7 linked regions of the Homo sapiens genome follow. The protein of the gene in region 1 purifies or fractionates together with the protein of each later gene. This does not show direct contact. Each region holds a gene or a part of one and is shown in the gene's direction. Other genes may lie near its edges. The genes, in order: KIF3A, CAMSAP1, PREP, PI4K2A, SERPINB5, PADI3 and UBA6.

Region 1 (4,118 bases):
TGATTTAAATTTCTGTTTTTTCCTAGGATATATAAAATAGGAAAATTGAATAGTAATTAAAAGCTTGGATTTTTGTCTCCAGTGTAGCTATTTTGGATAGAAGGGTCCATTGTATATAGTGTATTTCTAAAAACTAGATCTATTTTGGTTATTTTATTTCCGTGTGATAGGAAAACATATCAATGAATTAGAATGAGTTATAAATTAAGTTAGAAATCGATACTACACAGTGGTGTAATTTGGCAGAGATGTTACATAATTATATTTCTATTTTGAAATTGTATATCCAAATTTTAAATTTTGGGAAATGATATTAGTAGAATAATAGATCATCAGTGAATATAGAGTATTCTCATTCTAATCAACAGACAAGAGCATCAGTCTTTGCTGGAAAAATTATCTGCCCTGGAAAAGAAGGTAATTGTTGGTGGGGTTGACTTGTTGGCCAAAGCTGAGGAACAAGAGAAACTTCTTGAAGAATCTAACATGGAACTGGAAGAAAGGAGGAAAAGAGCAGAGCAACTTCGCAGAGAACTTGAGGAAAAAGAGGTAATGTGACTTTCTGTTTTTAGTTTGGTATTTTGCCAGAGAGATTTAACTTTTCTAGTGGAAAGCTAAATATCTATAATCGTATTGAAATTTTAAAGCATATTTATGGATTGCTTTGAAGATCAGATTTGCTAAACATTTATGTCATTTGTTAAAGAATTAGATATTTGATTTTACAAAGAAATTTATTCTGAAGTTTACTAATTTTTGTCATAGCAAGAACGCTTGGATATTGAAGAAAAATATACCAGTTTGCAAGAGGAAGCACAGGGAAAGACCAAGAAGTTAAAGAAAGTTTGGACTATGCTGATGGCTGCAAAGTCAGAGGTTGGTTCTCTTAGAAATTACCTACTAATGCAGTTCTGGATTTTTTAAAAGGGAGTTCTTTGATTAAGAATTTATAAATAATCATAATGTGAGCTTATAATTTAAAAGAAATAAAATATTTCTTTATGTGCAATTTTTAATTTTATCTATTAGTCTAAATTGTTTCTTTTCAACCTTAACAAATAGTGTAGAATAGATGCTGATAGTGTCACGCTGTTTATCATTTTTATAAAAGAACTAGGTAAGCTCTCACAAGGTTTCTTAGACAAGCATCCTATGTGAGATGGTGCTGTTTTGTAGTTAAAGTCTTGTTTGTTCATAATATTTTTATGGATTTTCTGGTAGATGGCTGATCTCCAACAAGAACATCAGAGGGAAATTGAAGGCCTACTGGAGAACATTCGGCAACTTAGCCGGGAGCTTCGACTTCAGATGCTTATTATTGATAACTTTATACCTCGGGATTATCAGGTAAAAAGGAAGTTCTCTGACCGAGATAGTCGCTTGACTGGGATTAAGGAACAAAGATTTCTAATTTAACTGATGATAAATACTTAATACTTCAGTTATTGAATGTACAATTTTTTGAACAAATGCCATCACATTTCACTTTAGTTGTTAACTTTTAATACATAATCTCTGTTTGAGTATCTAGCCTTTTAGACGAACTCAGATTCATGTATATGTGATCAGAATCAAGGTGTAGGTCCCATTCCTTCATTCAGCGCCCATTATCATACAAGTAGAATAAATGGAACCTCTGTGCTGCCTTTTTCTCCCTGCTGTGGGTGCTGATTCTTTGTGTGTGTGTGTGTATATGGTAAAATATAGATAACATGAAATTTACCATCTTAGCTATTTTAAGTGTGCAGTTCAATGGCATTTAGGACATTCACATTGTTGTGCAACCTGTACCATCATTCATCTCCAGATGGATGCTAATTCTTAGTACTAGTATAATTTTAAAATCTCAGCCTCTATTTTTTTTAATCCAAAATTTGTCTTTCCAGTGCATTTTGGTAAACTTTAACATGATTTTTTTTTTTTTTTTTTTTGTCAGGGAGACAGAGTCACTTTGTTGCCCAGGCTGGAGTGCAGTGGTGCAATCTCGGCTCCCTGCAACCTTCACTTCCCGGGTTCAAGTGATTCTCATGCCTCTGCCTCCCGAGTAGCTGGGATTACAGGCGTGTACCACCACACCCAGCTAATTTTTGTATATTTAGTAGAGATGGGGTTTAGCCATGTTGGCCAGGCTGGTCTTGAGTTCCTGAGCTCAGGTTGATCTGCCCGTTTTGGCCTCCCAAAATGATGGGATTACAGGTGTTAACCACCATGCCTGGCCAATTTTTTAAAAATCTGTTTTGAATCTCAATACAGTTTTAAGAAATTTGTCTGAAAATAAGTCTTAGTCATTTTTTTTTTTTTTGGACCTCAGGTACATGGAATTAGTCCTGGGTTCATGGTACATTCTCCTTATTGGTCCTTGGATGGCCTGCTTTTATTTAGTTATTTTGTAATGAACTCATCACCCAAAACAATATCTAGGACCCTGATAATAACTACTTCTAACCAGTTTCCCCTTCCCTTATTTCATTCCTTTGCCTCTTCCAACCCAAGGTAATCATTATCTTGATTCCCAAGTTTCTCATTCTGTTGTTTTTTCATTTTCATTTAGTTTTATTTCATCTGCATGCATTCCTAAGAAATATGTATTTTAGAATTTATAAAAAGGTTATATCAGTATATAATGTTTTGAGACTTTTATTACTCAATGTTATTAAGATTTTAGTTTTATGACTTCAATATTTTAGATGTTATTAAATATTAAAAATAGGCTATCTTTCACCCTTTTAAAAGGAAATGATTGAAAACTATGTCCATTGGAATGAAGACATAGGAGAATGGCAGCTAGTGAGTATTACCTTCATTCTTTCACGTAATAATTAAAGAGTACTTCCTATGGTCTAGAAATTGTGCTGGCTACAGTGGGGAGGAACATGGTCCAGTAGATGAATCAGATGAGAATCCAGTAGGGCAGATAAAATATTTTTCTAATTCCATGTAATTAATTGTAACATACAGATCATGGTCTGGGTGGAAATGGTCAGAGTTAGGGGCTATGTGGGACTAAGTGACCTCTGGGGCCCTTTCTGCTCTAGCATTCAAATCATGTTTTACTAGTGTAATGTTAGGATTTCTCAGTTATTTGCCTAACTCACAGTATTGATTACTAATTAAGACATTTCTCTGTCTCTCCCTTTTCTTTTTTTGAGAAATGTGTTGCTTATACAGGAAATAACATGAGGAAGCAAACCCCAGTACCTGATAAAAAGGAGAAAGATGTAAGAGTACTTAAAAAAAAACAAAACAAAACACAAAACTACTGTTGTTTCTTTATAGGAATATGAGTCATTAAATTGTATTATCAACTTGATATCTGTTAATCAGCTCTGCTGAAAAATGGGCTGATACTTTTGGGAATAAAGGCTCTAGGATGGGGTGATGAGGAGGACAGTTCTGCTTACCATCAGTCTTGATGTCAGGCTTATTCCCACCACAAGAGGGGCATGGACTCACTCTTTGGAGTCCTCTTTTCACTACCACTCTGGGTCGTAGGATTATGGGTGGAGACTAGAATGTGTCTTTCTTTCTCTTCAAAGCTAGTTCTAGTCCTAGGTCAAGAAGAAGAGGGAGCGGGCCGGGCGTGGTGGCTCACGCCTGTAATCCCAGCACTTTGGGAGGCCGAGGCGGGTGGATCACGAGGTCAGGAGATCAAGACCATCCTGGCTAACACAGTGAAACCCCGTCTCTACTAAAAAAATACAAAAAAAATTAGCCGGGCGTGGTGGCGGGTGCCTGTAGTCCCAGCTACTCAGGAGGCTGAGGCAGGAGAATGGCGTGAACCCAGGAGGTGGAGCTTGCAGTGAGCCCAGATCGCGCTACTGCACTCCAGCCTGGGCGACAGAGTGAGACTCCGTCTCAAAAAAAAAAAAAAAAGAAGAAGAAGAGGGGGCAGCTTTAAGAAAAACAGCAACAGTTTTTATGTCCAAGGAAATTTATAGTGTGTCAGGGCTTCTTACTCACCAACCTTTATTAAGTACATTTTAGATACTGGGATTAGAAGATGATGTCATTAGACATTTCTTTGGTTTTAGCTTCTGTGGGTTTGATCAAGGAGTTTATTCAGTATTTTAAATCTTCCCCCAAATCTGGCTTTAACTCTTTGCCTTAAGAGTGCTTTG
Region 2 (4,118 bases), on another chromosome or scaffold:
CAGCGAAGGCGACCAGAAGCCGGGGGTCGGCTTCTTCTTCAAGGTAAGGGATTGGTAGCATCTGTTTCAGGCACTCGTGATGTGTTGCCACCCCACGTGATAGTGAGTTAGAGAACACAGATCTGCACCAGGCTGGCCAGCCGCTCCTGTAAGAGGCCAGGGGATGTGTGTGTTTAGCTTTGTGGGCCACAGAGTCTCTGTCCCGAGGACTCCACTTGGCCAGAAGCAGTCCCGGGCAATACGCATGCAAGTGAGCGTGGTGTGGCTGAGACGACTTTGTTATGAGCCCTGAAACTGGAATTTCATGTGATTTTCAACATAGTTTTTTTTTTTTTGCTGGTTTTCCAGTCAAAACCCTGTCATCTCCCTGTCCTGCCCCAAAGCGTAAAAAGCGTTCGTCGTTAGAATGCTCTGGAGGTGGCCAGGCCTGGCCTGTGGGCTGAAGTTTGCCAACCTCTGATATAGCAACTTCAAAAAACATTTTTTGTATGTTTTTCTTGTAATTTTTTCCTTAGATATGAAGGGAAGCGTAAACTGAACTGTTTTAATAGTCAGTGCGTCACATGATGTTTGCTGTGACGTTCGTTGTCTCCTAAGATGATAAGACCATATATCGTCGTCTCCTAAGATGATAAGACCATGTTTTCGTGGTAGTTTTTCAATGTTTAGATAGATTTTGATACACAGTTACTTACAGTATTGGGTACAGTAATGTGCTGTGCAGGTCTGTAGTCTAGGAGCAGTGGCTGATGTAGCCGAGGCCTGTGGGGGGCGCTGCCATCCAGGTGTGCGCACACTCCGTCATGCTCACACAGCAGCAGAGTCACCTGAGGACCTATTTCTCAGAACGTTTTCTCTCGGCAAGCGACACGCAACTGTTTCTGCTTTGCCTCCAGGCAGTTATGAATTTGAGAGGATACCAAATCATCAGGTGGATCTTAGCAAAAGAGGCAAGCTTTATTTGGTGGTTGCACTTTTGAAATGTAAACAAATTCGTGACCAACTTCAGTATTCACTTTTTCGCTTTTTTTTTTTTGGACAGAGTCTGGCTCTGTCGCCCAGGCTGGAGTAAAAGGGCATGATCTTGGCTCACTGCAACCTCTGCCTCCCGAGTTCAAGCGATTCTTCTGCCTCAGGCTCCTGAGTAGCTGGGATTACAGGCGTGTGCCACCATGCCCGGCTAATTTTTTTTTTTTTTTTTTTTTTTTTAAGTGGAGACAGGGTTTCGCCATGTCGGCCAGGCTGGTCTTGAACTCCTGACCTCAGGTGATCCACTCTCCTTGGCCTCCCAAAGTGCTAGGATTACAGGCGTGAGCCACCACATCTAGCCAATTTTTGTATTTTTAATAGAGACAGGGTTTCGCCATGTTGGGCAGGCTGGTCTTGAACTCCTGACCTCAAGTGATTCACCCACCTCAGCCTCCCAAAGTGCTGGGATTACAGGAATGAGCCATTCTGCCCAGCCTCGCTCTTATTTTGGAAATATACGTGTACTTTTTAAGGCAAACTGGATCTCGTGAGATGTTTGGGAAATTGGGTGATGCCGAGCGCCTTTGAAATGCCCTGGTTTGTCTTCATTCGTATTTCAGAGTCTGTAACGGTTAGAGAAAAGCATAGAAGTCTTTATGCGTTAAACTTTTAAAAGCGTAGTGGAAGTCGGCTGCTGGGTCGAGTGCGGCCGTGTCCGGCGTCTGAGGGGGTTCCTGTCATGCTCTGTGTGGCCTCTGTCTTGCAGGATGAACAGAAAGCGGAAGATGAGCTCGCCAAGAAGCGGGCGGCCTTCCTCCTGAAGCAGCAGCGCAAGGCCGAGGAGGCCCGCGTGCGCAAGCAGCAGCTGGAAGCGGAGGTGGAGCTCAAGCGTGACGAAGCCCGGTAAGCGTCCCGCCGGGGGGGAAAGCAGACTGAGCAGGAGCCTGGTGGGTCCCTGGCGGCCCCGGTCCCGTTGCTGGCACTGAGCATGGACCATGGCAATGAGTGCCTGTGACGGTCTTACTCCTCCCATGGACCACCTCCCCGAACTTTCACGGCCCCTGCTGATCTTCAGTGAGGACGTGCGTTGCCGGTGGCCAGGGAGGCTGTGTGGCCTCGGTGGGTCATCTGCAGGACTGCCTTTGCAGCCTCTGTGTCCCGCTTGTGGAGGCTGGCCACTCTTGGTCCCAGCGGCCGGGGAGAACCCGAGAAACGCGCCTGGACAGAGCGCCGCGGCGCAGGCGTCGTGGAAGAAGCCCCGTGACCGAGCAGTGTCTGGGCGTGTGTTTCTCTCAGGCGCAAAGCTGAGGAAGACCGGGTGCGGAAGGAGGAGGAGAAGGCGCGGCGCGAGCTCATCAAGCAGGAGTACCTGCGGAGGAAGCAGCAGCAGATCCTAGAGGAGCAGGGGCTCGGCAAGCCCAAGTCAAAGCCGAAGAAGCCGCGGCCGAAGTCGGTGCACCGGGAAGAGTCGTGCAGCGACTCCGGCACCAAGTGCTCCTCCACCCGTAAGCAGCCCCGGCCCTCACGCGGGCAGCGCTTCCTTCCGCGGGCGGCGGCCTCACGTTCTTCAGCTCATTTCAATTTTGTCATCAAGAGTGGTGTGAGGCGGGAAGGGTGGAGATGATTATCCCCGTTTCATGGATGACAATGTTGAGACCAGATGCTCTGAGATGTGCGGCACATCCAGGCGCAGCCCGGCTCCCCGGGATGGGGTGGGGACGCGGCCTGTGTGGCCGAGCTCTGCAGGGCGAGGTGAGGGGAACAGGTACAGGGGACAGGTACTTGTCTGTCGGAATCCGTTCATGAACCGTCGTCTGTTTCTGTCTCTGGCAGCTGATAACTTGAGCCGGACTCAGTCAGGCTCCAGCCTGTCCTTGGCCTCTGCGGCGACGACAGAACCCGAGAGCGTTCATTCCGGGGGCACACCCTCTCAGCGGTAAGGGGCCTGAGACGGCCGCCGGCACGGGGCTGGAGGACGTTCGGAGGGGCAGGGTGGGACTTCCTGATTAAACACGGTGAGAGAGGCTTTTGTAACTTTAATTTTGATATAATTTCACATTTACAGAATAGTTGCAATCATGTCATCAGGAATACCAGTGCCCTTCACACGGGCTCCCCAGCTGGTTAAACGTGGCAGCCTTCACCTTATCACCCTCCCCTGTCCCCCACCCCACACGTGCACACCTGCTTCTTCATCGTTTTGAGTCCGTTGGAGTCCAAGCGTGGTGGCTCACACCCATGATTCCAGGACTTTGGGAGGCTGAGGCAGGAGGATCACTTGGGCCTTGGAGTTCCAGACCAGCCTGGGCAACAGAGTGAGACCCCCCCATCTCTACAAAAAATACAAAAAAAAGTTAGCTGGGTGTGGGGGCATGCACCTATAGTCCCAGCTACTTGGGAGGCTGAGGTGGTAGTATCGCTTGAGCCCAGGAAGTTGAGGCTGCAGTGAGCTGTGCTCAGGCTACTGCACTCCAGCCTGGGCAACAGAGTGAGACGCTGCCAGAAAACCCCCAAAAGCAAAAATAAACAGAAAAAAACCACTCCGTTGGAGATGTCTGGCCTTTTATGCTTAAATACTTAAGTGTGTATTTCCTAGAACGAGAATGTTTTCTCGTGTTACCAGTTACCAAGGCAGCACTTTCATCCGATTTGCGGTCCCCATTCAGCTGTCCTCAGTTATCCCAAGAGTGTCCCTGACAACTGTGTTGTTTCCGAGTCCAGGATCTGGTTTGGGGCGATGAATGGCCTTGAAATGCCATGTCCCTGTAGTCTCCTTCGATCCAGAGCAGTTCCTTAGCCTTTCTGTGTTTTTCTGGACCTTGACTTTTGGTAACCACAGGTCAGTTATCCTTCTGGCTGCCTCTCAGTATCGGCTTCCTGTGATGAGACTGAGGCCTCGCGCTGCTGATTGAGCAGCCCAGAAGTGAGTGTGCGTCTTTCTCAACGCAGCCTCTCAGGTGGGCCCCGGGACCGCTCCTGTGATGAGAAAGTAACTTCAGGAGAGAGGCTGGGGACTGGTCTGGACCTCACGGAACTGTCCCGCAGGGGCTTTAGTGACCACCATGGAGCTCCTGCTCACCGCTTCCTCCACGCGTGTTGTCAGCTCTCGTGGGAGCAAGGGCTTCCCTTGCCCATGTGTCCCTTTATTT
Region 3 (4,118 bases), on another chromosome or scaffold:
AAGTCTCTGTTGGTTTTTCCCCTCTAGCTCTTTGAAAATACAAAAACCATTCTGATCTCCAGAGCCACAGGAAAGCGGGCCAGGGCGAAGATTGCCAATCCCTAGTGATAGTTGGAATTGTATTTCTGTGGGACTCAGTAAATTTTATTTTCTGTTTAAATGAAATCAGAAATGTGACCTGTAACAGTTTTATTTTTCTTGAACTGGTCCTCTTGCAAAAATGTTAATTACTGTATTCATACTTTACATCCCTTGTCTCTTGTTTTTAAATGCATTGTAATCAATGAGCTTTGGAACAGTTTGTCTCACCACAAAATCATGGTTCTGCAGAGTGGGATTGGTGGTTTTTGTAGGGGAACCCAAAGCATTGTTGCACATTTGAAGACCATTGTGAGCTTGGATGGGCCCTTAGAGTTTGATGATATATCCAAAAGTGAACTCTGATAATAATGCATTTTTCCCTGCCATTCAAAGTATATTATGGTCTTAATTTCCTGAAGTTTTTCCCTGATGATTTACTTATTTATAGACATCTGATGAAATCTTCTATTGAATTTAAAGCTGATACAATGTTCTTGTTTCATTTCTTGCTAATAGCCAGATGTGAATTACTAGTAGCCAAGTTTTTATGGTATTGTCAACTTTTTAACTGGTTAGTTACAAATAGGGTGTGCTTGGATACAACTCATCTTTTGTAAAAGCCCCTTTTCCTGCCTTCACTACCAGTATTTCCTGATGGCCATCTCTTGCCTTTCTTATAAACCATGTTGCTGATATTCTTCTGCAATGCCACTTGTTTCAGGTGTTTTTTGTTTTTGTGTGTGTTTTAAGACAGTCTCCCTGTGTCGCCCAGGCTGGAGTGCAGTGGCACGATCTTGGCTCACTGCAACCTCTGCCTCCCGGATTCAAGCGATTTTTGTGCCTCAGCCACCCTGAGTAGCTGGAATTACAGGCACCCACCACCACGCCTGACAAATTTTTGTATTTTTAGTAGAGACAGGGTTTCGCCATGCTGGCCAGGGTGGTCTCGATCTTCTGGCCTCAAGTGATCCACCCGCCTCAGCCTTCCAAAGTTCTGGGATTACAGGCATGAGTCACTGCACCTGGCCTCCAATGTTTTTTCAATGTTCTTTGGTTGCAAATTTTAGCAAAGTTCTCTGATTGAAATTAACATGGTAGTAGGTCTTACAAAGCCAAAATCGATAAAATAGCGCCTGGGTATCCCTAACTTTCTCTCTTTGACTCTGACTTCTCTTGGGATGGCCAGGTGCTGAATAAGAATCCCGGAACCATGGCACTGCGTAAATGCAGATTATTGGCAGTGTGTGATCTGAGCTACAGTATAGTGTGTTTGTTAGGAGCGTGGATCTGGGAGCCAACTCTGCCATCTGCCACTTCCTAGCTGTATGATGTCGGGCAACTTTTTAACCACTCCAAACCTCAGTTTCCCAATCTGTAAAGTTGGCCTAATAAAAGGACCTTCTCCATAGGATTATTGTGAGTTCTAAATAAGTTAATACTTGCCCTGTAAGCATTAGCTGAGTTAGTACCATGTAAGCATTGGTTGTTACTACATATTAATCAGTCACTTGGCAGGAGCTGGGCAGGTATGAAGAAGAGTAAGGAGGTGAGAGAGGCTGGTAATGAGAGAGAAGAGGCACTGGCTAAGAGACAAAGTGTGCTTTTTCTGATACATATTAGTGGATAATATTTCACATGGAAAATTTTATATTTAACTTGCTTTGTCCATTTTAATTTCTCCACAGGCCTTTGTGGAGGCCCAGAATAAGATTACTGTGCCATTTCTTGAGCAGTGTCCCATCAGAGGTTTATACAAAGAGAGAATGACTGAACTATATGATTATCCCAAGTATAGTTGCCACTTCAAGAAAGGAAAACGGTGAGACTGCTTTTACTGAATTTCCTTTTTATTTTCAAAGTAAATGCTTTCTTAAATTGTAAAATACAAATTCCAGATAACTTGTCCTTGTATAAGATTAATTCATTATAAGGAATTAATTTCTATGCCTGAATATGAGAGTAATATTTTTGATCTATTAGGTATTGTCCAAATTGTTAAAATAATAGTTAAGAAATTTAGTAGGGATAGGTCATATAAAGAAATCTAGATTATAGGAAATCGTCGTCTTATCGGTAGTAATTGGTGAGATAGGATGATTCATAGACAGCAGTGGAGGTTTGTTTGCCTCCGAAGTTAATTATCTTTGATGTATACTACTTGGAAACATTTAATTCTGTGTTTTTCTTCTGTCAAAGAATGGTGAAATGGGTGAATTCACTTCTCTTGTTCCTGTCCCGTTAACACCCACTTACAGATGTTTTCTTGATCTTTTATTAAATCTCTTTGGAGCCACTATCACACATTTACTTTAGACTTTCTTCAGCCCTCTGCCATTCTTACAGAGATCGGCAACGTACAGTCTGCCTACCAAACCCTGGCTGCCTACCTATTTTTATAAATAAGGTCTGATTGGGACACAGCCATGCTTATCGGTTTACGTATTGTCCATAGCTGCTTTTGTGCTGCAGCTACAGGCCTGAGTATTATAGTGACAGACTGTATGGCTCACAGAGCTTGAAATATTTGCAGTCTTGCCCTTTACAGAGAAAGTGTACTGACCTTCCACCCTAGCAGCCTTGCTAGGGAAAAGAACCAGAATTTTATTTTAGAAAAGTCTGCTTTCTTCTTCATTTAAAAGAAAAAGTTACTGCTTTATTTGAATATCAATTTTTATTTTAACACATAAAATGGTCTTTATTTGCCTCTACTCGGCTAATGTGCAGGATTACAATACAGGATTTGAATATGGAAGCAATTCTGTTAACAAGCTCTAGGTAGAGAGAAATGATGGAACCTTTCACCCATGTCCCCACGTCCCTGCGATGGCCAGATTACAGTGGTACCTTTTTAGGTCTTTGGTTTTGTTTTGGTTTTTGCTTGTGTGTGTTTGGTTTTACTCCACAAATAGAAAACTCCACAGCTGAATAAAGACCATCTCTGTTCCCCAGGTATTTTTATTTTTACAATACAGGTTTGCAGAACCAGCGAGTATTATATGTACAGGATTCCTTAGAGGGTGAGGCCAGAGTGTTCCTGGACCCCAACATACTGTCTGACGATGGCACAGTGGCACTCCGAGGTAAGTGCTACACAGAGAGGCCCGTGGAACTCCTAAGACCCTCACTTGGAGCTCTGAAGTTAGTGCAGTTGCTTTACCTCTGAAATGCCAGGCAGGGTGTGGACCATATTGTGGAACAGATGCACATACAATATCAGGAAAGCTAATTTTTGCACAGTATATTTAGAATACATGAATAGTCACATTCCTCTTTTCCACTCTGATGGCATGAAGCAGAACTGGAAAATAATTAACACTGGACCCAAATTAGCTTCTAGGGCTTCTGGAATCTTGACATATCATCATCATTTCCTCCAACATCCCTGAGACCTACCTGTGATTAGAAAAAAATAAGTCGTCTTCTATAAGAAGTTTAAGCTGTACAAAGATTATTCCAACTATAATATTAAACAGGAAAGAATGTTTATCAGATCAGTTTCCCTCTTGGGAAGGAGGCGATTAGAGTTTTAAAAATCTAGTTAATTGTCAACATGTTAGAATTACAAGTAAAAACACACAAATCTTGTAGAAATTGAACAGCTGGGTATCCTGTTCCCTGAAGATGGAGGTTTAAAGACTAAGTTTGTCCACAGTTGCTGTACATCTCCTACTTAACTCTGCCCCTAAGATAACCTCCTCCGTAGGCCATAGAGAAGATTATCCAAGGTTTCTGCAGTAAGCAGAGTTCTAGGGTAAGGAACTAAGTTATTCTCCAGTTCTGTATTTTAATAATTGTAAACTCTACAATGATAATGATGTTATAGATGACGTTGGCTCAGCATTTCTCCTGTAGTACCTTCTGGTTTTATAGAAAAAACCATATGATTAGTTATGGCCCTCTAGAATTGAGAAATTGAGACATTGAAGTCCTCTGTAATCAATAAGATGGGAGTTATAGAGCCCCGTTCCATCAGACCTGTGCAAAGACCCTTTTTTATACAAACACTTCTAACCATGATCCAGTCATTCGGTGGTCCA
Region 4 (4,118 bases), on another chromosome or scaffold:
AGAACAGACTCCCTTGTGCAAGAGCAGCCAGCTGTTATCTTCCGAGGCTCTGTTTTCTCACTGGAAAATGTAGTTGTCACCAGTGAAGTAACATCTGAGTCAAGGTCCACACAAAAGGACCTTGGCCAACTGATATGGATTTTATTTCTTCTGTTCTGCTTTCAGGATTCTCATTTTCTTTCCCTAGGAGGAATGGCTTATAGTTATCTTTATTATTGTCATTTCCTTCTTACCAAGGACTGTAGCAACTCTTGGGGAAGTGTACCTTTTCTAAGATAAGAACAGGACTCTTGAACTTTGAACAAGAGCCAGGTCAGAGGCACCAAAATGTGCTAAGTTCAGATAACAACATGGAAGCCAGTTCAGAGAGTAGCTCAAGATAAGTTCAATAAGAATTCTTCTCTTGAGGGAGTTGGGATGAGTTGCTTTGCTACTAATTGGAAGGGCCTGAGGGAGATGGGTTTCCTCAGTCATTAGTCTTTCCTTGCTCTTCAGGACACAGACTGGGTGGTGGTGAAGGAGCCTGTTATCAAGGTGGCTGCCATAGACAATGGGCTGGCCTTCCCACTGAAGCATCCTGACTCCTGGAGGGCATGTAAGTCTCCAGACAATGGTGGTCTGGCTCTTCCCTTGCTCAGTATATTTTCTCACTGTGCAGTGGAGATGATAATGTCTCTATCATAGGATTATTCTAAAAATTAATGAAATAATGGAGTTCAGGCACTTTAACACAATGGCTGGCATATGGCAACTATTTCATAATGTAAGCTGTTTTTCTAATTTTTGTCTTCTATGATTCCCATTACAAGCATAAAGGTGATTAGAAATTAGAAGCATAAAGATGAGTTTTCTCATTGTCTCTTTGCATTCTTCTCGTTCTTTCTGAGGACTTTTTTTTTTTGGAAATGGAGTTTCGCTCTTGTTGCCCAGGCTAGAGTGCAATGGTGCGATCTGGGCCCACTGCAACCTCCACCTCCTGGGTTCAAGCGATTCTCCTGCCTCAACCTCCCAAGTAGCTGGGATTACAGGCATGCGCCACCACGCCCGGCTAATTTTGTATTTTTAGTAGAGACGGGGTTTCACCATGTTGGCCAGGCTGTTCTTGAACTCCTGACTTCAGGTGATCTGCCTGCCTCAGCCTCCCAAAATGCTGGGATTACAGGTGTGAGCCACTGCGCCTGGCTGAGGGCTATTTATTTTTTATTTATTTATTTTTTTTTTGAGACGGAGTCTTGCCCTGTCGCCCAGGCTGGAGTGCAGTGGCGCGATCTCGGCTCACTGCAACCTCCTCCTCCTGGGTTCACACCATTCTCCTGCCTCAGCCTCCCGAGTAGCTGGGACTACAGGCACCCGCCACCATGCCCAGCTAATTTTTGTATTTTTAGTAGAGACAGGGTTTCAGTGTGTTAGCCAAGATGATCTCAATCTCCTGACCTTGTGATCCACCCGCCTTGGCCTCCCAAAGTGCTGGGATTACAGGCATGAGCCACTGCGCCCGGCCCTTTTTTAATTTTTTAATTTGTTATTTTATTGTTTTAGTGTATATTTCCTGAAATATCTTTTTTTTTCCTGTTATCTGAGGACTGTCTTTCCATAATTTATTCTAATTGTGCCTCTAAATATAAGCTTCCTATCAGTGTTCTGTCTTCCTTGTTCCATCTCCTACCCTGTTGTAACTGAGAAGCTTCTGGAAAGGAGGAGAAATAAATGTAGGGAGTCAGTAGCCCCTTTTGCAGCATTAGTCTTCCTTTTCAGAAGGACCATCTCAGCGTCTCAGTGGCAAGTAGTTGCTTCTAGACCTTGCATCTTGGAAGGTCATGTAATGTCTGAGAATGAGCTCTGACATTAGGCAGCCCTGGGTTTGAACCCTGGTTCCTCTACTGACTAGCTGTGTAACCTTTACAGTTAAGAGCACTTGTAAGTTTTTGTTTCTGTTGTATGTCAGGGAAGAGGGGTTCTCCTTTAGAAAGTGCCTTGACTGGTGGAGGACACAGATGAGCAGGGACTTTTCCAACACCAGCTTTGCCTTTGACTTTTCCTCTTTTCAGATCCTTTTTACTGGGCCTGGTTGCCCCAGGCGAAAGTCCCATTTTCTCAGGAGATCAAAGATCTGATCCTTCCAAAGATATCGGACCCTAACTTCGTCAAGGACTTGGAAGAGGACCTATATGAACTCTTCAAGGTTAGCCCTGGGAACCTCAGCCCTATTATCATATGGGAGAAGGAATTTTTAATGGTTTTTTTAATTGGTCCTGACAAAAGCCAAGAGGAAATGGCTAACACCTTTCTGACTTGAGTTAGCCAACGAATAGCAAGATTTCCACATGTGGACAGCAGGACCTGGTTTGGATGGGTTTGAGAGAAATGGGCAGGGGTGAGAAATCACACTGATGTGTCTCTCCTGTCCATCATGTGGCTGCAATGTATCTGCAGGGCTTTCATTTTAATATGGAGCACTGGAGCCTAGAGTTTGAGATGCAGAGGAAGATATTGACTTGTTTTCTGTTTCCTCATCTGTAAAGCAGGGAGTTCTTGTGGGAGTAGTTGACTTCACAAAGCTGCAGAAGCCTTATGCAGGTTTTCCTTCTTAGAAAGTTTCTAACTGGGGGAGAAAATGGGTTCCTGTGAGGCATTCACACAGGTTCCATCTCCTTCTGGTCTTCTTTTGCAGAAAGATCCTGGTTTCGACAGGGGCCAGTTCCATAAGCAGATTGCTGTCATGCGGGGCCAGGTAAGCCTGGGACATCCTCCCAGTATCTTTGGCGTCTCTGGGAGTGTTGTGTGCTCAGGTTGAGCAAATGTTTGAAGTTTGTGTTTTATACCCCCCCCTTTTTTTTTGAGACCGAGTCTCACTCTGTCACCCAGGCTAAAGTGCAGTGGCATGATCTCTGCTCACTGCAACCTCCACCTCCCAGGTTCAAGCAATTCTTGTGCCTCAGCCTCCCAAGTAGCTAGGATTACAGGCGCATGTCACAACGCCCGGCTAATTTTTGCATTTTTAGTAGAGACAGGGTTTTACCATGTTGACCAGGCTGGTCTCGAACTCCTGACCTCAAGTGATGCACCTGCCTCTGCCTCCCAGAGTGCTGGGATTACAGGCGTGAGGCCCTGCGCCCGGCCGTGTTTTACAGCTTTTTTAAGTCCGTTGTGTACATTATTTTTGGCTGTACCTTAACACCTAGGAGAGGAAAAGTGGCCCTCCCAATTCTCCCACCTCTTCCCTGGTATCCAGTGCTTGTTGAAGCACTTAATGTGCACTCATCTCTATGCTAGTTGCTAGGTAATTCATTGGTAATTAAACTAATGCTCTCTGTCCTAGAGTTGCTCAAGGCAGGCTGTATGTTTTGGTGGTTAAGATCTGGGCCCTGGAGCCAGACTGCTTCACTACTTGGAAGCTCTGTGGCCTGGGGCAAAAGCCTCTGTTTTCTTGTTCATAAAACAGGATAGTAATAATACGTTGCACAGTTGGCTGGAGAATTTCATGAGATAATGCTTATCAAGCGTTTAGTAAAAAGAGTACTGGGCACATGAAGCACTCACATATTGATTATGGTTATAATTTTGTTGTTATAGGTGCAACTTACATTATTCCTTCTCCTTCCACTTCACCTTCAAAGGGAGCTAAGGAAACCAAGGGGATTGTTGATCTTCCAAAGCATAGTAAAGAAATGCTTGAAAAATGGTTTGAAAACTCTGTAGGGTACTGGTATTATGCCTATCACTTTGAAGTCTTCTTAAAGAGAGTTGGGATGACCTAGTGGTTAAGGGTGCAAACTGTGGTCACAGTGCCTGGGTTTTTGAAGCCTGGCTCTGCCATTTACTACCTGTGAGATTTTGGGCAAGTTACTTAATCTCTCCTTCCCTTAGTTTCCTCATGTTTAATGTGGGATCAATAATAGTAGCTGAGACCAGGCATGGTGGCTCACACTTGTAATCCCAGCACTTTGAGAGGCTTAGGTGGGCAGATCACTTGAGCTAAGGAGTTGGAGACCAGCCTGGGCAACATGGTGAAACCCCATCTCTACAAAAAACACAAAAATTAGCCATGTGTGGTGGCGCACGCCTGTAATCCCAGCTACTCAGGAGGCTGAGGTGGAAGGATTGCTTGGGCCTGGGAG
Region 5 (4,118 bases), on another chromosome or scaffold:
AGACCCTGGGAGACAGAGGTTGCAGTCAGCCGAGACTGCACCACTGCACTCCAGCTTGGGCAACAAGAGTGAAACTCCACCTCAAGAAAAACAAACAAACAAACAAACAACAAGACCAGATGCTTTCAGGCACTTGTTGGCTGTGAAAAAACAAAGTATGGCTTACTCATTGACATCACTGGAAGTCATTATGGGAAGAATTAAGGGCCTGTTTTGCAGGCCAGTCTCATTGATACTGTTGAAGTAAATATGTTAAATAATTAATAGAGGGTGGGCACAGTGGCTCATGCCTGTAATCCCAGCACCTTGGGAAGTCGAGGCAGGCAGATCACGAGGTCAGGAGTTTGAGACCAGCCTGACCAACATAGTAAAACCCCATCTCTACTAAAAATACAAAAATTAGCTGGGCATGGTGGCATGTGCCTGTAATCCCAGCTGCTCAGGAGGCTGAGACAGGAGAATGGCTTGAACCCAGGAGGCAGAGGTTGCAGTGAGCTGAGATTGTGCCACTGCACTCCAGCCTGGGTGACAAAGTGAGACTCCATCTCAAAAAAAAAAAAAAAAAAAAAAAAGAAATGGGTAAAGTACCTCTTTTGTAAATGAGATCAAGGAACTGAGACTGGAAATTTGACCCATTTTATTGGAAAACCCAGACATCTATATGATGATGTGATGTGGTCTCCGTGGGTGGGATCTGACTTGTGTTAGACTGGAAGCAGCACTTCAGTTAGTACAATACTTGAAGGTAGCTTAGTTACCTGTAGCTCCTACGCGTCAGTTCTAGTTTTCATGCTTCTCCCAGTAGTTAGAGTACTTAGCATCAATATCTTGTTTTTGCCAAATATAGTAGCACCTTCTTAATGCTAGCATCCATGAGGAAAAGCCCTGCAAGATACAATCTATGCCTGGGTTAGCCGGATGGCTTCCATTACTCTTTCTTTCTTTGTTCCCATGGAATTTTTATTCATACTCTCCCCTGTCCACTGCCAGAATTTGCTTTTCCACAGTGAAATCTGTTTACTTACATAGATCCCCTACTAGCGCATGGGATTTTTAAGGTAGGGACAATGCCTTATTCACCTCAGTGTCTACAATTTCTGGCCAAGTCCCTAACACATCAGTAGGTGCTCAGCAAATTTGCTGAATGAATGATCAGTCCCTAAGGGTCAGTTTGCTTAAACAATCAATAGCAGACAAAACCTGACTGGCCTTTGGGACTACCATGGTTTCCTATGCAAGACCCATTGGGCATTTTCACTGGGAGAAGACAATGATGACTGTTACTGCTCCTTACCAACTCAAAATATCCATGGGAGCTGAGGGATGGGTAGGAGGTCCTCCTAACTTCCTGAGTTTAGCTTCCCAACTGCAGTGGTCTTCTCAAAGCTGACTGCAGAGACAGGATTGACCCTGCACACAAGAGGTCTGTCTGAGATTCTAGAGACATAGCTTATGCTCTTCACACTCTTGTGTTTTGCACACACAGGTCCTTGAGTTTTAAGCATGGCTTTTTGACCTTCTCAGTATTGTCTTTTATCTGGAGTGGAAGTGGAACGTGACTTTACCCAGCCTCTACTGTGAGTTAGGGAGGGGTGTTGGCCCCACTGGCCCTGACGGCATCCACACAGCCTTTGCTGTCATAGAGTGACCCTTCTGGCTCCTTTGATTAGTGATTGGCTCTCCTCCATAGCAAGGGCTGGCAAAGGGTTCCTAACTCTGTTTAAGTGAAATCTGAAACAGGTTGCCAATGGTGCCTCTCTTCAAGACCCCAGAGCCAGCCTGGAAGGAACACCATGAAAATGTTGCAATAGTCAATGAGTAGAATGTGGACTTTTGTGTCAACCACACTAAGGGTCGTACTTTTTTCATTAAGAAAGTATTAACGTGTGTTTTTTGAGAAGGGAGGAAGAATGTGTGCTATTCCTTTATTCTTGCTATTAAATCATAAAGCTGGGTTATATAAGATCCTGGAAACTCAGCCTTTATGAACAGAATTAATAAAAGTTTGAAATGTCATTGATCTCTCAGTGTTTCACTTGATAAAGCAATAAAATGCTATTCACAGCTGCATGAGGCTACACCCTTCTTTTGAATGCAGATGCTATTACTTCTCCTTTGTTTTCTTTGAATTGCTTTGTCCACCCTAGAACTTTTTGAGTGACATTACTAAACCTTTTCTTATGCCCCGTGGTGTCTCCGGTAAGGGTTAGACTAAATTGGTGAAGTTATATCATTAAAAGTTTAGTATAGTACTTATTCTGATAAAGATATCTATCCATATATATCTATATTAGTATATATGTTGTATTATATTTTCTGGGGTAGATAGTCTTTATTTGGTCCTCTTTTCAGAAGATATGTCGTCTCAACATGTGTTTCAGAAAATAAAGTACCTGTAGTCAGTGCCGATAAGTGAAATTGATGACAGTTTTTGGAGGCCACAACTATGTGCACATTCAGAAACTATGAGCAGTCTAACCTGTTGGAGATTTTTAGACAAATTTCTTTAGGAGGAATATATTTTAAGACAATATCCTCTTTAGGAGAAATAAAGGGAAGAATTATCTGTTAACCTCCAAAGTAGTATGTTTTCCTATAATTCTGTTTTTGGTTACACATAGAGTTGAAGTCTTCCATTATTTATCAGCCAAATATTCAGTGAGAAACTACAAGCTGGGGTAGAAAATGAGACTTAGTTTCTGCCTTGACTGTATTCTAGTTGGGGTGGGAAGTGGAAAGACAATCACTAGATAATATTTCTAACACTGTGGCAAGTGTTAAAATAGAGGTATATACAAAAGTAAAATAAATAACGTTTAGCTCTGCTGGAGAGAGGTATTGGGGAAGGTTCAGCTTAGTATTTGAAGATACCAGATGCAAGTTTACTGGAGTATTATCCTTGCAGGCTTGATATGAAGTTTGAAATTTCTCCCCAAAGAGATTTAGTTAACAGGCAAATATCCCATGGGAGGTATATGTCAATAGGTTATACAACATTACTGTCAGTCTTTTACAACTTAGCGTGAATTAATTTTCCTTCAGGAAATCAGTCATCTCTGGAGCAGAGACAGGAGGCCAGGTGTTAATAGGAGCAAAGAGAAGAAAAGGCCTGGGCAGTGCTTGGACATAAAAGACCTGAACGATCAGACCCTTCCATGGGCTCCCTTTAAGAAGAGCAGGGAGAGACCAAGGGCTAAAGTTGGGAGACTGAGAAAATGCAGCCCACCGGGGCATTACTTATTTCTCCAGCTCTGATCCGCTGTTGTACTAGGGGTCTAATCCGGCCTGTGTCTGCCTCCTTCTTGAATAGCCCAGAGCATTCATCTAAACAGCCTTCCTACAGCAGCTCCCCACTTTAGGTGTGGCCAGACAGGAGTTCTAGACCAGGTTGTCTCCTGGGACATTGACACCGCAGCCAAGTTTATTGGTGCTGAGGCAGACACAGTTGGTGTGGTTGGTTCAGGGGCTAGCATTGGAATAGCGTTTGGCAGCTTGATCATTGGTTATTCCAGGAACCCATCTCTCAAGCAGCAGCTCTTCTCCTATGCGATTCTGGGCTTTGCCCTGTCTGAGGCCATGGGGCTCTTCTGTTTGATGGTCGCCTTCCTTATCCTCTTCGCCATGTGAAGCTCTGTGGGGGTCACCTGCCTGTCCCTGCTGCTGCGGCTGCACACCATTCTTGGTGCTGGGCTGTGCTAAGCTTTACCATTGAACACAACGTTTCTGAAAAAAAAAAAAAAAGAGCCAAGCATACAGTGGAGCTCAAAGGGACTTAGAGATAATTTTAAAAAGACTTAGAGATAATTTTAAAGAACATTTTCCTTTTTAAAAATTATGCAATACTCCAAGCATTCAGAAAATGATAGAGAATAATAAAACGAACACCCATATACCGATCAATCATCTTTTTGAACTTAATATTTTGCCTTAATTATTTCAGATATTTTAAAGAAAAAATATAACAACAGTTGCATTGCTTTGTATGTATCCCTTCACTGCTCACTCCACTGTCCTGTTCCTCTTTCTTCCTCCCCAGTGGTAACCATTATTCTGAATTTACAATTTCTTCATTCTACTGACAAGAATACTGAGGCCTGGAGAGATTGAGTGATTTGCTC
Region 6 (4,118 bases), on another chromosome or scaffold:
ATGCTGGCAGCTCGAGGTGGCCTGGAGAGGAAGGACTTTGTCCAGGTGAGGCTCCAGGTACTTCCCCTGTTCTCTAGGAAATGGGAAGCTAGATCCTCCCGTACCTGATGCAGGTTCTCCTCCCAGCAGCTGCCCCTCTCATTCTCCTAACACACAGCTTTCATGACAGGCATGAGCACTGGACTGGAAGTCAGCAGCCCTACCTTCTAGTCACTTATCTTCTGGGCCTCAGTTTCCCCATCAGTGAAATGAGGGCATGACTTTTGCTCATCCTGAGTGCTTTACCCACACTGGTTCCTTTCATCTTCTCCTCATCCCCACCAGATAGATGTCGATGCTGCGGCTGAGGGAGGCAGTCACTCGCTCAAAGTCACACACCTAATGAGTGGTGGGACTGGGATTTGAACCCAGTTGTCTGGCCCCAGGGACCACAGGCTCAAGTACCTTGCCACGGCTCCATCATGTTGCCCCTCCTGATCAAGAACCAGCGCTGGCTCCCCATTACATAGGGATGAAATGAAAACAAGCTCATTATAGCCTGAGTCTAAACTAGACCTCTTAAGGTTCCACGGTGAAAACACCTTCCCCTCACTTGTGTCTCCTCTTGGTGCCTTCCCTGGGGAACCTGCCCCAGCCACCCAGCCCACTGTCTCATCCTGCCTCCAGACCCGTTTCCTGCACCCTCATTTACTTTAATAACTCCTTCCCTGTCCTGGGCCAATGGTGTTGCAAGCCTTTCCTGTCTATTATCACACTTGAGTTTCATGATTGCCCATGAGGTTGGCCAAGTAGGTGTCATTATCCCACTTTAAGGTGAGGTTAATGGGCCCAGAGAGACTAAGTGATTTAGTCAAGCTCAGCTGGCCGATGTGTGACCCAGCCTGGTCTAAAACCTAATTCTTGACTCTGGTCCCAGCACCACCTGAGCCCTCGGCTTGCAGCCCCTCCCTTCCCCAACCTCAGATGTAGCTTGTTCACCTGTGCTAAGCCCTTGTTCAGACCGTGGTCCTGGGGACCCTCCTGGGCAGGGGTGCTTCAGTCTTCACTGGGGATCCCCCAGCATCTCACACAGAGCCTGGCACATGGAGAGGCAGGGGCGCTGGGCTGAAACACCCTACACCCAGGGGCTGGAGCCTGGGGACTGAGTGGGGTTTTCATACCAGAAGGACCATCAAGGGCGCTCAGCCCTTGCCCATGGACACTGGAGGCCCAAGGAACAGCTTTGGGGTTGAGGGAGTTCCATAAAAAGTGTACAGGCTTCAGCCAGGCGCGGTGGCTCGCGCCTGTAATCCCAGCTGGGAGGCTGAGGCAGGCGGATCACTTGAGGTCAGGAGTTCAAGACCAGTCTGGCCAATATGGTGAAACCCTGTTTCTACTGAAAATACAAAAATTAGCCGGACACGGTGGTGGGCTGTGTTGTCCCAGCTGCTTGGGAGGCTGAGGCATGAGAATTGCTTGAACCCGGGAGGTGGAGGTTGCAGTGAGCCAAGATTGCACCACTGCACTCCAGCCTGGGCGACAGAGCAAGACTCTGTCTCAAAAAAAAAAAAAAAAAAAAAAAAAAAAGGCTTCCTTGGGAGATGGAAGGCGAGTGCCTCAGGAGCGTGGCTGAGGGTGTTCCCGAGGGTATGAGAGGCTGCTCTTCCTACCTGGGTTTGTCTTCCTGTGTCTCTTTCCGACTCCCTGTCTCTGACTCTCCATCTCGCTGGGTCTCTCCAAGTCTCTCTGTCCCTATCTCTCTGTCTCTGTGTCTTCATGCCTCTCTCCCTGGTTCTGCCATTTCCCCTGTGGGGGGCTGCCCAGGGCCAAACAGGCCAGAGGGCTCCACCAGCCCTGGAAATTACAGGCTTTGGGAGTAGGGTTGCCAGATAAAATAAAAGATGCCTAGTTAAAATTGAATTTCAGGTAAATAATTAATAATTTTTTTAGTATAAGTGTATCCCAAATACTTCACGGGAGTACCAAACAATGATTGACTGTTCACTTGAAATTCAAGTCCAACTGAGCTTTCTGTATTTTTATTTGCTAAGTCTGGCAGCCCTGCTTAGGAGGAGAAACAGGTGTGTCTGTCCCTCCCAACTGGTGAGGACACCTGACAGGGGCCCAGACACCAGAGTGGGACCTGCCTGATGGAGAGAAGCTTGGGCTTGGTTTATTTCCCTTTTCATAAAAAAGCTGCTTTGAGATGTAAGAGAATCATGTTGGTGGAAGAGTGAAGAGGTTGTTTTGGGGGAGGTCTGCCTTACTCTGAGGGAAGATGGGAAGCGGGGGGAGTGGCCAGCTGTGGAAATTTGGGGTAGTCCCCTACGTATCCTGTGCCTCAGTTTCCCCATGTGTAAACAGGAGTAATTATCTCATCCTGGGGCTGCAGTGAGGATCAGATGAGCTAATGTACAAAAAGGCTTAGGCAGGCCTGCCGTGATAAGAGTGCAGAGGCTGGGGGCTTTTTATGTTATGGTATTGTTGTTATTATTACTCCTGGGGAGGTGGTGGGCAAGAGTGTGGACTGAGGAGCCACATGGCTGGGTTTGGATCCCAGCCCGGCCACAGACCTTGGGCAAGTTACTTAACCTCGGCTTTCTCATCTGTATAATGGGAGACAATAATAGATAGTGCCTCCCTTCTAGGGTTATTGAGAGGATTGCATGATGGGCTGGCACACAGCATGAGCTCAGTAAGTGTCAGTCACTGTTATCCCCCAGGGGCATGCATGCCGCTGCCTCCAGGAGGCCCTCCAACTCGCAGTGGCCTCTCCCTACATGGGTTCCCACTGAGCTGTGATCCTGTGGCCTTGAGCCCCATCTGGCTGCCCTGGACAATGTTGGTCCTCAGCTCCCCAGCGGGATCAACAGTGGGGAGAGCAGTGGGTGGATCTGCCCGCCAGGCAGTACCTGAGTGCACAGTGGGCACCCCACAGTCAAAGGATGCATAGTCTGGTTTCCAAGGAGGAACCCCAGGCTAGGTGGAATGAGGGAAATGCAATCTCAGGGCCAGATAACATCACAGATACTTTAAACCTGCAATTAATTTCTGGTTGTTTGACCAAATCCGGCCAAGTTTCCCGGGTGACACTGCAGAGCTGTGGAACAGCATGGGCTTGGAGTCAGACCTGTTGCACATCTGGCTCTGCCATGTGATGCAACCTCAGGCTTGTCACGAGGCCTCCTTGAGCCTCAGTTGCTAATATGCCAAATGGGGATGATATTGCTCACCTTACAGCTTGTAAGAGTGGAGGGAGCTGCGTGCGCCAGGTGCCTGGCATGCAGCGGGCACTCAACCAGATTGAATTCCCTTCCCAGGGAAGAATTCAAGGATATCTTCCCACCCACTAAGGAGACATGTGATGGGATCTGGGGTGAGAATTGCTCTTTTTAAAGCTCTCAGAACTGTAAGGGGCTCCACCCACCAATGGCTGGTGTTCACTGAGCTCTTCGTGCCCAGACCTGCACTGGGGATTTATCGAGCACATGGCTGGCTTCTGACTTCCGAAGAGCTCGCCATTCTGGTGAGTGGTAAAGAAACTCACAAGGGAAATGTTAATGAACACAGGGGCTTAGAACATCAGACTGTGTGTATGTTTTTTTGTTTTGTTTTGAAACAGGGTCTTGCTCTGTCGCCCAGGCTGGAGTGCAGTGGTGCAATCTTGGCTCACTGCAACCTCTGCCTCCTGGGTTCAAGCGATTCTCCTGCCTCAGCCTCCCCAGTAGCTGGGATTACAGGCATATGCTACCACGCCTGGCTATTTTCTTGTATTTTTAGTAGAGACAGGGTTTCACCATGTTGGCCAGGCTCGACCTCAAGTGATCCGCCCGCCTCGGCTTCCCAAAGTGCCTGACCTCAAGTGATCCATCCGCCTCGGCTTCCCAAAGTGCTGGGATTAAAGGAGTGAGTCACCACGCCCGGCCGACTGTGTATATGTTTGTGTGGGGTCCAGGCTTGACTCGCAGGAGCTTACTGTGAGGATCTGAGGGGACTGGGTGGCCAAGGAAAGCTTCCTGGAGGAAGCAGGGCTTGAGCCAAAGCTCAAACATCTGAGCAAAATATATCTCCTTCGGCACCGACCATGGCTCTCTGCCCTGCCCAGGTCAGTGCCTGAGGGCACAGAAATGTTTGAGGTC
Region 7 (4,118 bases), on another chromosome or scaffold:
TTTAGATTCTGGAACAATGGGCACTAAGGGACACACTGAAGTTATTGTACCGCATTTGACTGAGTCTTACAATAGTCATGTAAGTGAATCAATATTTTGAAATAGATGTCTTTTTTATATCTTGTAATTTTTGTCTTAATCAACAATTTGATTTAGCTTTCCTAATCCTTCTGATTTTGCTCTGCCAATGATGTTCATACATATGTGCATGTACATTTTTTAAAATATAATTGAACTTTTTTTTAATTATCAGAATTTTGTGTCTGGTGTTTCTGGAGCATTATTCTTCTGTTTACTATTTATTTCTCAGAGCTGCTTAGTTTTCTAATACCCTTTGAGTTTAAGATTGTTTGATAAGAACAAACTATTAGATTGAGACTAGAACTGTCAACAAAGACATAAAATTTTATTCACTTGCTGAGACAAAGTGAGTCATTTTAGATTAGGTAAACCAATAAACCTAGGCAAAATGTACTCTATAATAGAATGTGGATTTCTTCAATGGTACTTTATCCACAAAAAACGACTTAGGTATTTACCATTTATTTAATACATGCTTTCTGCAAGAAACCTCAAGCATTGAGGACATATTTCTGCTCCCAGATGTTTTTCTCCATGGAAAAACTCATGCTTTTCTGAGCACTATACTGGGTATTCCTGAATTACTTTTCAAAGCGGGGCAGTGTTATAAAACTTTAAATGTCACCTTGATTCATGAGGAAAAAAATGATTTATAGATGATGGTGTGTCATGAGTACTACATGGTGCTTTAAATGAGTACACAAATAATAAATAAGATTCATGTTTGGCATTACATAGCTATTAACAAATAGGTTAAATGTCAAAAGAATTAACTTCTCTTATTGCCTAAGAGAGAGAAGATATAAAAATGTCTGGTTGGATTTTATTTATTTTTGGATTTTTAATAGGCTTAAAGCTCAAAACTAGATTAAATCAATAAAAATTGGTCATTGCTTCCCCTTAAGTACCTGTTGTCATATTTTATAAATTAGCGGGATCCCCCAGAAGAGGAAATACCATTTTGTACTCTAAAATCCTTTCCAGCTGCTATTGAACATACCATACAGTGGGCAAGAGATAAGGTAAAAGTTCCTTTTTAAATTTATTTTCTTTGAAGTGAGAAAGAAGATATTTCTGACTTTAAACAGACTTCTATTTGTAATTTTTTTTTTCTTTTCTCTGTTACAGTTTGAAAGTTCCTTTTCCCACAAACCTTCATTGTTTAACAAATTTTGGCAAACCTATTCATCTGCAGAAGAAGTCTTACAGGTAAAAATCAGTAAATTTTAATACAAACTTAACACTTTGTGTCAGTGTAATCTTATTTTCAAGTCATCTACAAGTGATTTATTTTACCTCCATAAAGAGTGATTGTATATAAAAAATGAAATGATACATAAGGAATCTTGAAATTAGGTCACAAATTATCATTTTGGTTGTTTGAACTACATGGAATTGTCGATATTTGAGCATGTTCGACTCACAAAACAGCAATTCGTATGGTGCGAGCTAATAAAGATATGATAATTATGATAGAAGGGCTACAAATAATAAAAGGGCTTTTATTAAGCCCTTTGGAAAGAAAAAATTGAGGTAAGTTCTAGTTAAAATTTCATGAGGGAACAATAATCTCCAAGACTTATTACTCTTATAGTGAAGGCAACTTTAAAGATGTTTTCTCACTTTCTTTTAATCTTTTGCTAACAAGGCCCACTTTTTAGTATCAAATATTCATAGCACTTATAGTGAGTACATATATTATAGTACTAATAACTTACAGCTAGGAAAATATGAGGATAACTTGTAAGATAAGAAATCAGAGTTAAAATTTTGTATGCTATCTCTTACCATTCCCCTTCTCAAACAGAAAAGAAAAGAAAGGTTAAAGAAGAAGGAAGGGAAAAGGAGCTTGAGGTGAAAAAAGAAAAGCATAAAACACATGAGTTGACACTTCAAACTTAGGCTAACTTTTGGTGAGGGATGTGTATATGTTTGTAATTGGAAGTATGTTGATTTTTTTTTTCTCTCCCATTCTAGAAGATACAGAGTGGACACAGTTTAGAAGGCTGTTTTCAAGTTATAAAGTTACTTAGCAGAAGACCTAGAAATTGGTCCCAGTGTGTAGAATTAGCAAGATTAAAGTTTGAAAAATATTTTAACCATAAGGTAAGTATGCATTGTGAGACATTAAGAAAAGGTCTGATCTTGGCTTATTTAGTTATTAACAAATTAATTTCATTGACCTGAAATGTGTATTCTTTCTTTTGGCAAGCTTTTCAGAAATTAGTAGTAAGTTAAATGAGAACACATGCTAATCTAAAAGAAGTTTGTTCAGAATAGAAGAAGCAAGAAACTGAGAAAATAGGGACATTTAGTCAGAAATTTTGCTGAGATTTTGCCATTTCCACCCATATCTGATAATCACATTTTATGTCTGTTTCCCCATCTGTAAAATAGAAATAATAAATTTGTACCTAATACATAAGGTAGTGGTAAAGATAAAAGGAGGTAACACAAAGCATTTAGAACAGAGCCTGGCACATAAAAAATTACTAAATATTAGCTGTTATTCTTACCTCCAGTTAAATATAGTTGCTGGAATGTGTGTTGCCTTCTCTTTAGTCTTTCCCTCTCTTTAGGATCTTAAGTTCATCTTCCTTAGAAACAACTTTAAAAAAAAACAAAAAAACAGGGTTTCCCTATGTTTTCCAGTCTGGCCTGGAACTCCTGGGCTCAAGTGATCCCTGCCTCAGCCCTTAAGTAGCTGAGGCTGCATGTGCACGCCACCACACCCCACTTAAAAAATATTTCGTTTATACTTCTTCTTTTTACTTTCAACAGAGCTCTACTTCTTGGAAAAGTGGTCTGTACTACTCAATGTTACCACTTCTTTACCCAGTAAATTTGACTTCTTTGCTCATTACTCTTCAGATTGTTCTTAACATGGTTATCAATGACCCGTTTCAAAAATCTAAGGAACTCTTTAGTTCTTATCTTCTGTGCATTTTTTTTAAACTTTTTTTATAATGAAAAATATTCAGCCATAGAAATGTAGAGGAAATAGTATAATGAACCCTAATGTAATTGTCAATTACCTATCACCCAGGGTTAGCAGTTATCAATTCATAGATAAATCTTGTTTCATCACCATTCCCGTTCATTCTTACCTTCCCCCAGGTGATTTTGAAGCAAATCTCAAACATGTATCAATTTCAAAAATACAAAGTACTGTGTGTTTTTTCTGGTTTTGTTATTTAAGTACTAGCTCTTTAAAAAGAACAGAATGACATGTAAAATATGCCATTTATATAAAAAGGAGTGAAGTAATCTACATTTGTTTGCTGTAGATACCACCTCCCAATAAACCTACAAATAGTGATAGAAAATGATATTTGAATTTTTCATTTATGAGGGACATTGACAGGAGAATGGACAGATGGAATACAAGGGTGGTAGGGAGACTTCACTGTGTCTCTTTTAATGTGTTTTGATTTTTGAATCATGTGCATATATTTACTACACACATTTTTTAATTTTATTTTTTAATTTTTCCTCAGATAATATTAAGTAGTGGGTGTCTTTAATTCATTTTTTTTCTTTAGGCTCTTCAGCTTCTTCACTGTTTCCCTCTGGACATACGATTAAAAGATGGCAGTAAGTATAAATGTTGAGAATAAATTTTAATGACATTTATTACTGGCTACATACATTGAAAATGATATTTGTATCTTTTTGCCAGGTTTATTTTGGCAGTCACCAAAGAGGCCACCCTCTCCAATAAAATTTGATTTAAATGAGCCTTTGTAAGTATTTATATTTAGTTTTATGTATCCTTCATTATATATTTCTTTACTGTAAATTCCTTAACTGTACATTGCAGAGTGAAAACCTTAGGCTCTTTAATGTTAAATTATTTCATCCCTGTTCATTTAAGAGTTAACAAGTCATTCTGACCAAGAAAGCCAGCCACAACCCTTCCCACACAAATGTGAATCCATTCATTTACATGGTAAATAACCTCATTATTTATAATAAATATCTAAGGTGAAACCAAAATCACCTTTTTTACTTTATCCATAAATTAGTAAAATGACAAT

What was found.
Region 2: the proteins of KIF3A (region 1) and CAMSAP1 purify together in Homo sapiens (affinity purification with mass spectrometry; one large-scale study listed by BioGRID and IntAct). This does not show direct contact.
Region 3: the proteins of KIF3A (region 1) and PREP purify together in Homo sapiens (affinity purification with mass spectrometry; 2 studies listed by BioGRID and IntAct, with this or other methods). This does not show direct contact.
Region 4: the proteins of KIF3A (region 1) and PI4K2A purify together in Homo sapiens (affinity purification with mass spectrometry; one large-scale study listed by BioGRID and IntAct). This does not show direct contact.
Region 5: the proteins of KIF3A (region 1) and SERPINB5 purify together in Homo sapiens (affinity purification with mass spectrometry; 2 studies listed by BioGRID and IntAct, with this or other methods). This does not show direct contact.
Region 6: the proteins of KIF3A (region 1) and PADI3 purify together in Homo sapiens (affinity purification with mass spectrometry; 2 studies listed by BioGRID and IntAct, with this or other methods). This does not show direct contact.
Region 7: the proteins of KIF3A (region 1) and UBA6 purify together in Homo sapiens (affinity purification with mass spectrometry; one large-scale study listed by BioGRID and IntAct). This does not show direct contact.

The regions. Positions count from the first base shown.
Region 1 is NC_000005.10:132,699,316-132,703,433, reverse strand, and holds part of KIF3A (kinesin-like protein KIF3A), read left to right. Parts: intron 1-368; coding exon 369-549; intron 550-765; coding exon 766-876; intron 877-1,221; coding exon 1,222-1,347; intron 1,348-2,733; coding exon 2,734-2,787; intron 2,788-3,149; coding exon 3,150-3,218; intron 3,219-4,118. UniProt on the Homo sapiens protein: Microtubule-based anterograde translocator for membranous organelles. Plus end-directed microtubule sliding activity in vitro. Plays a role in primary cilia formation. Plays a role in centriole cohesion and subdistal appendage organization and function.
Region 2 is NC_000009.12:135,816,764-135,820,881, reverse strand, and holds part of CAMSAP1 (calmodulin-regulated spectrin-associated protein 1), read left to right. Parts: coding exon 1-43; intron 44-1,735; coding exon 1,736-1,872; intron 1,873-2,265; coding exon 2,266-2,474; intron 2,475-2,802; coding exon 2,803-2,905; intron 2,906-4,118. UniProt on the Homo sapiens protein: Key microtubule-organizing protein that specifically binds the minus-end of non-centrosomal microtubules and regulates their dynamics and organization. Specifically recognizes growing microtubule minus-ends and stabilizes microtubules.
Region 3 is NC_000006.12:105,375,168-105,379,285, reverse strand, and holds part of PREP (prolyl endopeptidase), read left to right. Parts: intron 1-1,766; coding exon 1,767-1,900; intron 1,901-3,030; coding exon 3,031-3,161; intron 3,162-4,118. UniProt on the Homo sapiens protein: Cleaves peptide bonds on the C-terminal side of prolyl residues within peptides that are up to approximately 30 amino acids long.
Region 4 is NC_000010.11:97,664,390-97,668,507, forward strand, and holds part of PI4K2A (phosphatidylinositol 4-kinase type 2-alpha), read left to right. Parts: intron 1-495; coding exon 496-595; intron 596-2,048; coding exon 2,049-2,182; intron 2,183-2,671; coding exon 2,672-2,731; intron 2,732-4,118. UniProt on the Homo sapiens protein: Membrane-bound phosphatidylinositol-4 kinase (PI4-kinase) that catalyzes the phosphorylation of phosphatidylinositol (PI) to phosphatidylinositol 4-phosphate (PI4P), a lipid that plays important roles in endocytosis, Golgi function, protein sorting and membrane trafficking and is required for prolonged survival of neurons.
Region 5 is NC_000018.10:63,493,774-63,497,891, forward strand, and holds part of SERPINB5 (serpin B5), read left to right. Parts: intron 1-3,168; exon of another isoform or gene 3,169-3,730; intron 3,731-4,118. UniProt on the Homo sapiens protein: Tumor suppressor. It blocks the growth, invasion, and metastatic properties of mammary tumors.
Region 6 is NC_000001.11:17,255,494-17,259,611, forward strand, and holds part of PADI3 (protein-arginine deiminase type-3), read left to right. Parts: intron 1-1,752; exon of another isoform or gene 1,753-3,505; intron 3,506-4,084; coding exon 4,085-4,118. UniProt on the Homo sapiens protein: Catalyzes the deimination of arginine residues of proteins.
Region 7 is NC_000004.12:67,631,414-67,635,531, reverse strand, and holds part of UBA6 (ubiquitin-like modifier-activating enzyme 6), read left to right. Parts: coding exon 1-79; intron 80-1,013; coding exon 1,014-1,103; intron 1,104-1,209; coding exon 1,210-1,290; intron 1,291-2,058; coding exon 2,059-2,187; intron 2,188-3,623; coding exon 3,624-3,675; intron 3,676-3,760; coding exon 3,761-3,824; intron 3,825-4,118. UniProt on the Homo sapiens protein: Activates ubiquitin by first adenylating its C-terminal glycine residue with ATP, and thereafter linking this residue to the side chain of a cysteine residue in E1, yielding a ubiquitin-E1 thioester and free AMP.